3 separate regions of the Homo sapiens genome follow, and regions 1 and 3 are each linked to region 2. Evidence: fine-mapped expression QTL. A gene starts in region 2. Each other region holds a variant in brackets. All regions are shown on one strand. Distances are between the middles of the regions.

Evidence for each region. PIP is the estimated chance that this variant, and not a neighbour inherited with it, causes the effect. A credible set is the group of variants that fine-mapping cannot tell apart.
Region 1: its variant is the best candidate, but not a certain one, in a credible set for the expression of IGFBP4 in whole blood (TOPMed, PIP 0.59).
Region 3: its variant is the best candidate, but not a certain one, in a credible set for the expression of IGFBP4 in cerebellar hemisphere (GTEx, PIP 0.67).

What each region holds. Positions count from the first base shown.
Region 1 is chr17:40,514,615-40,518,778 of GRCh38, reverse strand. It overlaps LOC105371773 (a long non-coding RNA gene), which reads right to left and starts at 1,834. Exons shown (of 4, transcript NR_188623.1): 1 at 1,730-1,834. The variant A/C (reference allele first, on the strand shown) is at 1,986.
Region 2 is chr17:40,441,747-40,445,881 of GRCh38, reverse strand. IGFBP4 (insulin like growth factor binding protein 4) reads right to left here and starts at 2,432. Exons shown (of 4, transcript NM_001552.3): 1 at 1,798-2,432. The coding sequence starts at 2,146. RefSeq lists silencers at 2,226-2,275, 2,286-2,335, 2,346-2,535.
Region 3 is chr17:40,489,556-40,493,719 of GRCh38, reverse strand. All of the region lies in intron 2 of TNS4 (tensin 4), which reads left to right. Among named protein-coding and RNA genes, the nearest start is that of TNS4, 10 kb to the left of the region's middle. RefSeq lists enhancers at 1-243, 2,608-3,233. The variant T/C (reference allele first, on the strand shown) is at 2,499.

The DNA of each region.
Region 1 (4,164 bases), 73 kb before region 2:
TGACCTACAAGGCTCGCTGCCCCAGGCACTTGGGGAGACCCCTGTTCCCTCTCACACTCTCAGCCCTACTATAGGCCCCGGTGAAATGCAGGGAAGATCCCTGTAGCCAAAAGTCCTATAAATGATGGTGAGGAGTCAGGAAGGAGACCCTAATGAATCCTCTCCCAGCACCCTGTTTTCTCTTCTGCCTGGAACTCAAACAGTATTTGCAGGAAAGCACCCACTGAAGGTGCTCCTTCTTCCTCTGGGCATGCACTCCAGGAGGCATGCTTGCTATTTGAACATCCCTGAGCACTTTGCATTTTCAGCCTGGCCAATCTGCCTCCAACTTGCACTCCCAGAAGACTGAGAGCTGCCTAAAGGCAGAACCCAGCCTGGCTCTCTGGTCCTTAGAGTCATGGTGTTTAACACTGTTGAATGGACAAATTCAACTCTACTGTATTGGACTATATTGGACTGTACTTACTAAGTACTGTACTTCTCAAAGCCAGTCATGTGCCTGTATCTCCACCACCACCACCCTAGGCTCCTGCCCTCTGCACTTGATCAGCTCCCCAACCCTTTAGCCATACCACATCCAGAGGATCTTGCAAAACACAATGTCTTGGGAGGATTGCTGGATCCCAGGAGGTCAAGGCTACAGTGAGCTATGATCGTGCCACTGCACTCCAGCATGGGTGACAGAGAAGACCTTGTCTCAAAAATAAACCAAAACAGGGCCGGGCACTGTGGCTCACTGCTGTAATCCCAGCACTTTAGGAGGCCGAGATGGGCAGATCACGAGGTCAGGAGATTGAGACGATCCTGGCTAACAGGGTGAAGCCCCGTCTCTACTAAAAATACAAAAAAATTAGCTGGGTATGGTGGCATGTGCCTGTAGTCCCAGCTACTCAGGAGGCTGAGGCAGGAGAATTCTTGAACCCGGGAGGTGGAGATTGCAGTGAGCTGAGATAGCACCACTGCACTCCAGCCTGGGCGACAGAGCGAGACCCTGTCTCAAAAATACATAAATAAAAATAAAAATAGATAAACAAAAACAAATTAAAAAAACCAAACACAATGTCATCACGCTTCTACAAATGTTCTGTTGCTTCCCACTGTTTTCAAGGTAAATCCAAAACCTCTAAGCTGGTGCACTGGGGCTGGCCCCTAGGTGCCTCTCTGGCCTCCTTGTTGTAAATCCTTCTGTCTTTGTCCACCAGCTGCACTGAGTTTTCTTCAGCTCCTCAACAGGACCGCTATCACTCACTCCTACCCCAGGACCTTTGCACCTGCAGTCTCTTCCATCTGCAAGTTCTTTCTCTCTCCTTTACCCTTTTTGCCTGGCTAGCTTCTATTGTATTCAGATCTTGGATTAATTGAGGCAGCTCTCCGTGATCCCCTATAGGCATGTCCCTTGTTACACATTCTCAAGGCAACCTTGACTTTTCCTTCATAGCCTCTTTCACAGTCCATAATTAGACATCTGCATGGTTATTTCATCAATGTCTACCCTCCATCCTCATCCCCCATCCTGTCCCAAAGACCATCAACAGGATGTGGACCGATGCCCAGGCCCAGCCCTAGCACCTGCCCCCCAGGAGGCTGGAATCAGAAGGACACGCCTGACCCAGAAAGGCCCCACACCCCAGGAGCCTGAGATCTGGGATAGTACTTGGCCCAAAAGGGCAGCCCCACCCTGTGCTGCCAAAGTTGCAAGAGGAAGAACTGGGGCTCTGGGTATACTTACCTGGAAAGAGAAAGCTGAGGAATGCTTGAAGACAGAGATAAGATGGCCAGAAAGCAGGAAATGAGCTGCAGATAGCTGTTGGCTGAGGCAGGGCAGTTTAGAATTAAGGCTGCAGATCAAAGCCACAGGAAGTGGGCTGGTATTTTTCGGTAACAGCAAAATCTGATAGAAGCCACAGTTTCCTGTCTGGGTGGGGCAGGCAATTCATTCACTCATTCATACATATTTGTTCCTATCATATGGTCATTCAACAAAT[A/C]TTGATTGAGCACCTTTCTGGGTGCCAGACACTGTGCAGTGCCCTGGGGGACAGCAGTGAGTACAAGTGAATTAAGTCCCTACTCTCCTGAATTTGCAGGCATCTATCTTGTTGTCTAGACCTTTTTCCCAACTGCCAGCCTATAGTCCATTTAGTGAGTCACAGCCAGCATTTTTTTAAATGCAATACAGAATGGGATAGAAAATATTAGTGTAGCCCAAGCAGTGAGGATAAGCATTCAGTTATACATGTATTACGTGAACTGGGTCCTGGCATAAAATGTATTTCTTCCTGTGGTTCATAATCAGAAAAGTTTGAGAAACATCATTCTAAGCATTATTTAAATAATTCCAAGGCCGGGCATGGTGGCTCACACCTGTAATCCCAGCACTTTGGGAGGCCGAGGCAGGTGGATCACCTGAGGTCAGTAGTACGAGGCAAGCCTGACCAACATGGTGAAACCCCATCTCTACTAAAAATACAAAAAAAAATTAGCCAGGCGTGGTGGTGCATGCCGGTAATCCCAGCTACTCAGGAGGCTGAGGTAGGAGAATCGCTTGAACCCAGGAGGCGGAAGTTGCAGTGAGCCGAGATCGCGCCACTGCATTCCAGCCTGGGCAACAAGAGCGAAACTCCGTCTCAAAAAAAAAAAAAAAAATTCATAACCGAAGTCAATGATAGGGAGCATGAAGAAATACACAGAGTGCTACAGGAGGTTAGAACAGTAGGGCCCCAACTGGTCTGGGCTGGGGACGGTGGTCAGGGACATCTTTGCTGCAGAGAGGATGCCTGAGTTCTCTGAGAAGGGGGCGGGGAGTGGGAAATGGAGGAGTGCTAAGGGAAGGATGGGGGAGGAGGTGTGAACTAGTACTGTGTCAAGAGGATGGCTTGGCGAAGGAGCAGTCAGGCAGAGACCGGCATGTGCCACACGCACCATCAGAGGGTGGGGGAGGGTGGCGGGACGTGGAGGTGGAGAGGTGGGAAGGAGCCTTGTGAAGCTTATTGAACAGTTGGGTCTCGATCCTAAAAGCAATGAGAAGCCACTGGTGGGTTTATTCATTCATATATCCAACAACCGCTTGCTGAGGAATCCCTTCCCCTGGCATCCTGGTGCTGGAGACACAGAGATGAAAACACCCTGAAGCCACTTCCAGGCCAGTTGAGAGTCAAGACATGCTGGAAACATGAAGAAGCAATCAAGACAGGAAGCAGTCAATGCAGACGCACATCCTACTGAAGGAAACCAGTGTTTTAGAACGGGTTCCCCAGAAGCAGACTCTGAGACAAGGATGAGCATGAGATTCATTGACTTGGCAGGTGATCCCAGGAAGCACTGTAGGGAAATGGAAGAGTGACACAGAAAGGGGGAGGAAGCCAATGGAGGAGGACTGACAAGCCCCTGTGGGCAACTGGGAACTCAAACGCAATCCCACTGGAAGCCCCTGAGAGATGGCAGAACACACCTACAGGAAGTAAAGATGGTTTTCATCATCCAGTTCGCATCTGTCACTGGCTGAAGGCTGCTCCTGGGGTCATCAACTCCACAACACTCCTAACCTGTCCCATGCACAGGACAGACAGCCTGCTTCTGTCTGCAGAGAAGGCCTCTGGCAGAACTGCAGGGATGCAGGCAGAAGCCTCAGCATGCAGGGGAACAGCGAATGCCAACGGTGGATGCACAGGGCACCAAAGTCATCCTGTGCAGCTTCCAGAGCATTCTGTGGCCCCTTAACTCATCTGTATTTGATGTAGGATGATGAGCCCCAAATATCAAACTACAGCCCTAACTTTTATTTGGCCTCCAAATCTTTATATCAGCTCTCCCTCAGACATCTCACTTTGGATGTCCCATGAGCACCTCAAATCATCAGGTCCTCAAACTTAATGCATATGCATCTCCATCCTCACCATTAAACCTACATACCTCCTGTTTCCCTACTGGGATGGATGGTGCCCCCAATTACCCAGTCACTCAAGCCCAAACCAGCTAAGCACAATCCCTCAATCCTGTTACTTCTCTCACTGCCCAGCCTTAGGGTGACTCCCCTACCCCACCCTATCTCACCCAGATCATGGTATCAGCTTTCCAGGTGTCCTCCCCACCCCCATCATGCCCTCTGTGGGGCAGCCCAGGCAGACTTTCCAACACACAGATCTGGTTGTGTCCATCCCCTGCTTG
Region 2 (4,135 bases):
TTCAAAGTGCTGAGAGAGGAGGAGGCTACCAGCCATCCTTATCTGGTGCCAGATACCCTCTGGCTGGTGGAGGATGGAGATTCAAAGGGAACGTGACTCTGTTGTACCCCGCGAACCCAAGGGCTCGGCCCTTGCTCCCTCCCAGTCTCAGTACCCCTCCTCTACCATTGCCACTGGCATCTCTGCCCCAAGATTAGCGACTTTCTCCCCCAGGACCCCCCTTCCCAGATATGCTGGGTGCCAGGCTGGCATTTCTCCTAGAATGTTTTCTGCTGACCCATCTCTCCCTACCCAGGGGCAGGAAGGGCAGAGAGGCCCGAGGCCCAGACCCCTGGAGTCCACCTCCTTCCTGTTTTCCCTGCATCCTGCTCTCCTCGGCTGACAAGCTGCAGAGGATTGAGGAAGTGGAGGGTTTGGGTCCCAGGACAGGAAGCTTGGGGCTGGAGTCCCAGCATCCGGACTGCAACAATGGAAGCTTCAAGCACCAGGAAAAGAGACAGAGACAGACAGAGGCACAGGAGAGCAAAACAGGGTCGGAGATGGAATGAGAAACAGAGGCATAGATACAGAAAGACAGACAGAGAGATTCCCAAAGTAACAGGGAAAGACCAACAGTGACAGAGACACAGAGAAACAGCAACAGAAAGAGAGGGAGAGAAGCAGAGCAACTGAAACAGAAACACAGAATAAGGTGGAGAAAGAAACGCACGATGGGCAGAAGACACTGAGGAAAACAGAACTCGAGAGCATGACTAGTGAAACTAGAGGTTGAGAGACAAATCAGGAAGAACAAAAGAGCAAGAGAAAGAAGGAAAAGAGACTGAGAGTCTAAGGAGAAACTGAGAAACAAAAAAAGAAAGTGTAAGAATGAGGTTAGGGCAAGGGCCTTCTCAGAGTCTCTCTCTCTCTCTCTCTCTCTCTCTCTCTCTCTCTCTCTCTCTCTCTCTCTGTCTCTGTGTGTGTGTGTGTGTGTGTGTGTGTGTGTGTGTGTGTGTGTTTCTCTCTCTCTCTCTCTCTCTCTCTGTTTCTCTCCCCTGGCGCCCTGGCCCCTTCTCTATTCCCTATCCCACACACATGAGGCTCCTGCAGCTCTCGGCTAGGAGCCAAGACTTTTCTACCACCTCAAATCCTACCTGCCTGGAGAAAAGAACAGGGGGCCTGTATACCAGGGCAGGCAGAGGTGTCCAGGCCTGGCAGAGGGACCCCTGTCTTCCCACTGCCTCTCAAACAACAAGGTGACCTGGCTCTGGGCTTTGGGGAAGGGCAAGTCTAATGCCCCTCAACGCCAAAGTCCCTCTAATTTGTATGTCCCACTCCACCACTGGACCATGTAAAAAAAAAGTTCAGGCCCTGGCTCCCCAGACCACTGGGATTTCACCCTCGGCCTGGATCAGGAACAGAAAGCTTTCCCCACTCCCTCATCCTCCCCAACACACACCCCACCACCATCCTCCAGTTCTCTGGCCCTAGACAGCTGACTTAACTGGACCTTAATCTGCCACTCCTGCACCAGCAGCCAGGCCTCCCACTGGGACCCCCTTATCAAACAGACAACCCTTGGAGGTTTGAGATGGAGCGATGGGACAGTCTCCCTTGGTGGTGGCAACAGGCTGCTAGGGACTCGGTAGCAGTTTCCTTGATGAGCCTGTCCCATGCCAGTCGGGCCCTGCCACGTACCTGCCTTCTCTTCAACTCATAGGGGATTTTTAAGGGCCTTCCAGGGCGGCTGGAATGGGGAAGAAGCCGCTGGGAAGGGAGCGCACTCAGGAGGGAATTGGGAGGCCAGGGGTACCTTACCAGAGGGCTGCAGGCTTTCCTGGATGGCCTCGATCTCCGCCAGCTCCATGCACACGCCTTGCCCGTGCATCAGTGTGTGCAGGGGCTTCTCCACCCCTCGGGGCGGGTAGCAGCGCAGGCCCGAGCCGCAACGGGGGGTGTACACCCCGCAGGGCATCCCCAAGCCCAGGGCGCAAGTGGCGCAACAGCCGCAGCCCGGCTCTCGCACCAGCTCCTCGCAGCCCACGGGGGGGCGGCAGCGCGCCAGCTTCTCCTCGGAGCAGGGCGGGCAGTGGATGGCTTCGTCGCCCAGGCTCGGCCCGGGCCCGGCGGCCAGCAGCAGGGCGGCCACGAGGCAGAGGGGCAGCATGACCGCCCGAGGACTGGGCGCGGGCGCGGGGCGCTGGGCGCAGGCGGGGAGCGCGGGCGCGCGGGCGAGCGGCGGAGGGCACACGGCGGCAGCGCCTGGCGCTCCTGGAGGACCCGACCCGGAGGGCGCGGGGAGACGGGGCGGCCCGGCGGGCGAACGGGGACGTAGCGGGGGAAGTTAGCAGGCGTGCCGGAGGGGAGCAAGCCTGGCCGCCGAGGCGCTGCGCCGCATCCTCGGCCCGGCCCAGGCAGGCGGCGGGCGGCGAGGGGCAGGGGGCTGAGCGGCTGCCCGGGACCGGCTCCCCCGGACTTTATACCGGTCCCTGGCCACACCCCCAGCGCCTTCCCAGAGGTGGGGGAGCCGGGGCGGGCGAGGGGGAGAGGGAGAGGCGGCCGTTAGGGGGAGGGGGCGCTGTCCTGAGTCGCCGCCGCCGCCGCCGCCGCATCTGAAAGTCCTTTTCTGCCGAAGAAGGAAGCGGCGCAGTTTGGAAGCTGTAGCAGGCGCCCAGAGTGCCTCTGAACCGGAGCCCCGGAGGGGAGGCAAGGGAGAAGGGAAGCCAAGGGGCTGCTGCGGGGCCCCCTTTCCCGACCTCGGAGGAGTCTCGTCCCGCCCCGCCAAGGCGGCCTCAGTCTCCCACCGAGAAAGGGACTTCCTAGCCCGGACTCCCGGCTCTGCGGATCCGGTCTTCCTGGACAGAGCCCTTTCCACCGCACCCCGGTGCTTCCAGCCTCAACCGCTGGAGACCAAGCCTCCTGAGGTGGGGTAAAGCGTACAGGCACAGCTAGGGGCACAGAAAGGCCTGGAGGCCCTAAGACGTTAACAGGCTCTTGCCACTTGCCCCTTGCAACCTCTCCCGCCCCCGCAATCTCCCCAGGGCGCATTTGGGCCCTGGTCCACCCTGCTTCCCCAAGATGGAATCAGCAGAACTCCCGGGGAGGGAGGTGCCGCCGAGCCTCTTCCTCCTTCTTGGATGTTTGCCTCTCAGGCCCATTCAGACCCACTCGTGGAGGGAGGCAGGCCTGGGAGATTGCCACTTGCAATGTGCAAGTTTTGCGTTGAACAACTCCAGTGGGGCACCATTCCTTGTAATCATTGTGTATTTGTAGAGCTGTTGTGATCATTTCCCAGATGGCAGTGAAGGATTTGAGGGGCCTGCAGCAGTGACTCACACCTGTAATGTCAGCACTTTTGGAGGCTGAGGCGGGAGGATCACTTGAGCCCAGGAGTTCAAGACCAGTCTGGGCAACGTAGTGAGACCTTGTCTCTACAAAAAAATTTTAAAATTAGCCAGGTGTGGTGGCGTTCACCTGTGGTCCCAGGTACTCGGGAGCCTGAGGCAAGAGGATCACTTGAGCCCAGGAGTTGGAGGCTGCAGTGAGCTAGAATTGTACCACTGCACACCAGCCTAGGTGAAAGAAGGAAACTCTGTCTAAAAAAGAAAGAAAGAAAGAAGGCCGGGCGCGGTGGCTCACGCCTGTAATCCCAGCACTTTGGGAGGCCGAGGCGGGCAGATCACGAGGTCAGGAAATCGAGACCATCCTGGCTAGCACGGTGAAACCCCCTCTCTACTAAAAATACAAAAAGTTAGCCGGGCGTGGTGGCGGGTGCCTGTAGTCCCAGCTACTAGGGAGGCTGAGGCAGGAGAATGGCATGATCCCGGGAGGTGGAGCTTGCAGTGAGCTGAGATTGCGCCACTGCACTCCAACCTGGGCGACAGAGCGAGACTCCATCTCAAAAAAAAAAAGAAAGAAAGAGAAAAAAGAAGGCCAGGCGTAGTGGCTCATGCCTGTAATCCTAGCACTTTGGGAGGCCAAGGTGGGCAGATCACCTGAGGTCAGGAGTTTGAGACCAGTCTGGCCAACACGGTGAAACCCCATCTCTACTAAAAATACAAAAATTAGCCGGGCGTGGTGGCGCATGCCTGTAATCCCAGCTACTTGGGAGGCTGAGGCAGAAGAATCGCTTGAACCCCAGGAGGAGGAGGTTACA
Region 3 (4,164 bases), 48 kb before region 2:
ATGCCATTGTGAACATGTGTCCACCCAACTCTGGGGAACAGGGAATGTAAGGCAGGCAGTGGCCAGAGGGTCCTGAGGAAGCTGCCTCTCTGTGCCCTGGCCCCTTCTGATGGAGAAAAAAAATCTCTTCCTCTAACGTCTGCCTGGACACCTGCAATGCCTGGGAGCTCACTACCTCCTAAGACAACCCAGCCAGGTCAGCTCCCCACTGGGAAGTTCTCCACCATCACTAAGAACAGCAGACACCTGCACCCAAAATCCTCCCCGCAGACCCTACTGCTGGTGACAAATCTCTCACTGGCCTATAGCAGTGTACAACTCTGAGCGTTGTGGTGAGTTCTCTTACCTCGAAATGTATTCAGAGTGGAGGATCCCCTGCCATTTTACAATCTCATCCTTCCTACTTTTGGGCTGTTCAAGGAAAGACACTCTGACATTACCGTGCTAGGAGATGTTTACTTTTCCTTTTTGTCCTAACTTGGCAGAATTTAAAAATTAAACATTGGCAATTCTATATTGACATTTCCCCTAAATATATATACATATTTTTTTTGAGACAGAGTCTCGTTGTGTTGCCCAGCCTGGAGTGCAGTGGTGTGATCATAGCTCACTGCAGCCTTGAATGCCTGGGCTCAAGCAATCCTCCCACCTCAGCATCCCCAGTAGCTGGGACTACAGGCACATGTCACCACGCCCGGCTAATTTCTTATTTTTTTTTTCTTTGGTGGGTGATGGAGTCTTGCCTCCCAGGTTCAAGCGATTCTCATAGCTCAGACTCCTGAGTAGCAGGGATTACAGGTGCCCACCACTATGCCCAGCTAATTTTTTTGTATTTTTAGTAGAGACGGGGTTTCACCATGTTGGCCAGGCTGGTCTTGAACTCTTGACCTCGTCCACCTCGGTGATTCGCCCACCTTGGCCTCCCAAAGTGCTGGGATTACAGGTATGAGCCACCATGCCCTGCCAACCTGGCTAATTTTTAAACTTTTTGTAGAGATGGAGTCTCACCATGTTGCCCAGGCTACCTCAAGAAATCCTCCTTCCTCAGCCTCCCAAAGTTCTGGGATTACAGGCATGAGCCATATCACCCAGCCCAGGCTTAAAACAAAAAAAAAAAAAAAAAACTAGTCCATGTACCAGCCTGGCCAACATGGCGAAAACCCATCTCTACTAAAAATACAAAAATTAGTTGGGTGTGATGGCATGAACTTGTAGTCCCAACTATTGGGAGGCTGAGGTGGGAGAATCACTTGAGCCTTGGAGGTGGAGTCTGCAGTGAGCCAAGATCCCGCCACTGTAATCCAGCCTGGGCAACAGAGTGAGACCCTGTCTCAAAAAAAAAAAGACTCCATGTAATCCATGATCCCAGTGTCTGGCTTTTGAAGGAAATAGTGGAAACCTCCTTTTACAGATGAGGAAACTGAGGCTCGGGGTGGGTACGTGATGGCTCACAGTCACACAGTCAGGGAGAGATAGGTCAGGCCTCAAATCCCAGGCTCTGGGCTCCATAGGCCACTGTCCTTTCTCTCTTTCTAAAGTCTAGTCTTCTGCCCTCTGGGGCATCACGGAATCCATCCGTTTGGAGGCAGCCTGCAGGCTCCTCTTCTGAGGCGCGACCTCCTGGGTGCTTCACAAACCTTCCCCAGGTTCCCTGCCCCTGCCTTCCTTTAAACTTGCCCTGGGGGCCCCCATCCCACAGAGAATGTGGTTCCTAGAAGCAAACACCATATCCCTTTCTTTATCCTCTCCAACACCCCGCACCCCATCTTTGGAACAGGCCCCCCACTTTCATTTTCCAACAATGTCTGCCAGGCAAGGCTGTTTACCCGCCCCAAGTGAAGGGTATTTAATAAGTATCTCTCCACCCCTCACCCACACGCCCTCCCTCCACTCACCCGCCTGCCTGGGGCTGGCGCCGGCACCCACCCAGCACTGCTCAGACTTGCCCCACAGGCCAGTAAACAGCGACTGCACCCCTGCAATGGGTAGAGGCCCCAACCCCACCCCCCAGCCACACCCACCTTGAGGTGAGCACGGGGCTCCTCCCTCCCCTCCCGCTCTCCTTACTCAGTGACCCCAGCAAGGTCCCTGATGGATGTTTCAATGGCCCAGTGAGTAGGGAGCCCAGAGCTTCACTGTGCCAAGAGACCCTCCCCAAAGCAGCCAAGCACCTTCTCACAGGGCAAGGCCTTGGAGCAGGTTCCCAAGGAGCCCCTCCTCATCCTGGAAGAAGCAGTCCCTAAACAGAGCTCAACAACACTCCCTGGCTGTGCAGCATTGGATAACTCACTTCACCTTTCTGAGCCTTCCAGATTTCCCATCTGTTATATGGGCATTAATAATATCCCCTACTTCCACAGAGTTGTCATGAGGGTTAAAGGAGCTAATACAAGCAATGTGTTCGTAGTGGTCCTGGCACATTGCACTCAATAAAGACCAGTCTCTGTGAAACATCGTTGTACACTAAGTGTTAGCTCCATCCCCACTCTTCTCCAAGC[T/C]TCAGTTTCCTCCTCTGTAAAAAATAATGCCTGCCCTGCTCAAGGGCTATTATAAGGTTCAGAGGAGATTATGGGTGTAAACACTATAAAGTCCTATAAAAATTGAAGTTGTGCTTTCCAGCCTTCCAGAAGAATCCAACCCATTCCAAGATCTCTTTTCTTCCAGAGCCCACAATGCAGTGCCCCAAACACTCTCTTCTTGCAGTCATCTTTCTAAGCAGAGAGATCCCCACCTTAGCCAGAAAAGGGCTCCATTTGGCCAATACTGTCCCCAAAAAGCAGGCAGGTAGGAAATGCTCCTCTCTCGAGCCTCACCATGGGCCAGGCTCCCGGCTATTGTATTTCATCCTCATCACAACCTTGGAAGACTGGTTTCAGATCCTCACTTTGCAGATAAGGAAACTGAGGCTCAGAGAGGTTAGGAAAGTTGCACAATGCCCTTGGCTGAAAAGCAGCAAAGCCAGGACTCACCCCAGGTTTGTTTTGCTACAAAGCTAGGCTCTTCCTCCACCCGCTGAGCAGCAAGTCCCAGTCAGCTGCCAGCCCTTGCTCATCTGATGTAACTCCCCACCCCCACCGTGGCCCAAGCAAGCTCAGACAGAGGCAGTAACTGTGAGCAGGGCCAGATGGCCCTACCCAGGAGCGGGCTGGGGCAGGCTGGGGCTCCACAGTCATAATGGGGAGGAACAGTGCATGTGCCAGGGCCCCAGGCAGGTGGGAGCTGAGGGTGCACGTTCTCCCCAATTTCCCCAGCCTCCATCCCAGGAAGCTAGAGGCAAGACTCACACTCTTCAGAAAGGAGCGGCTCATTAACCCCCACCTTCCTCCAGCTTTGCTGGAACAGCACCAAGGACAATTCCCTTCCCCCAGGTCAGGAGGAAGGGTGTTCATCCTCACCTTGGGGAGAACCTCAGAGCAGCCCACTGCAAGGCCGACCTCGGGAGAGGAACAAGGCCTCAGAATCCCAAGAGTCCTGGATGCCCCGACCAGGGAGTGGAAAGAGCGCTGGAGCGCGTCGGCAGCCTGGGGTGTGTTGGGTGACCCCTGTGTACCAGCTACCATCCCCAGGAGATCCATAGCTCAAGAATGCAGCAAGCCCTGTGCTCAGGGAGTGCCTGCTCCAAAGCAGGGTTCTCAGACTCCACTGCATATTCACATGCCCTGGGTGGCCTCGCTAAAATGCAGATTATGTTTCTGTAGGGGTGGAGCCCAGGTGATGTGGTCCTGCTGAGCCATTCATGGTCTACTGGACTCACCTGAAAAACTGGAAAACAAACAAAACTGAGGCCTGGGTTCACCCCCTGGAGAGTTTAATCTAATTGGCACAAGGCGCAGCCTGGGGTGAGTCTAGTGTGTAACCAAGCTTGAGAATCCCTGCTTTCACTGCAGGTACAGAGAAACCACTTCCTTTTTTTTTTTTTTTTTGGAGATGGGGCTTCACTCTTGTCACTCAGGCTGGAGTGCAGTGGCGCAATCTCGGCTCACTGCAACCTCTGCCTCCCGGGTTCAAGCGATTCTTGTACCTCAGCCTCCCAAGTAGCTGGGATTACAGGTGCCCGGCTAATTTTTGTATTTTTGGTAGAGATGGGGTTTGCCATGTTGGCCAGGCTGGTCTTGAACTCCTGACCTCAGGTGATCCACCCGCCTAGGCCTCCCAAAGTGCTGG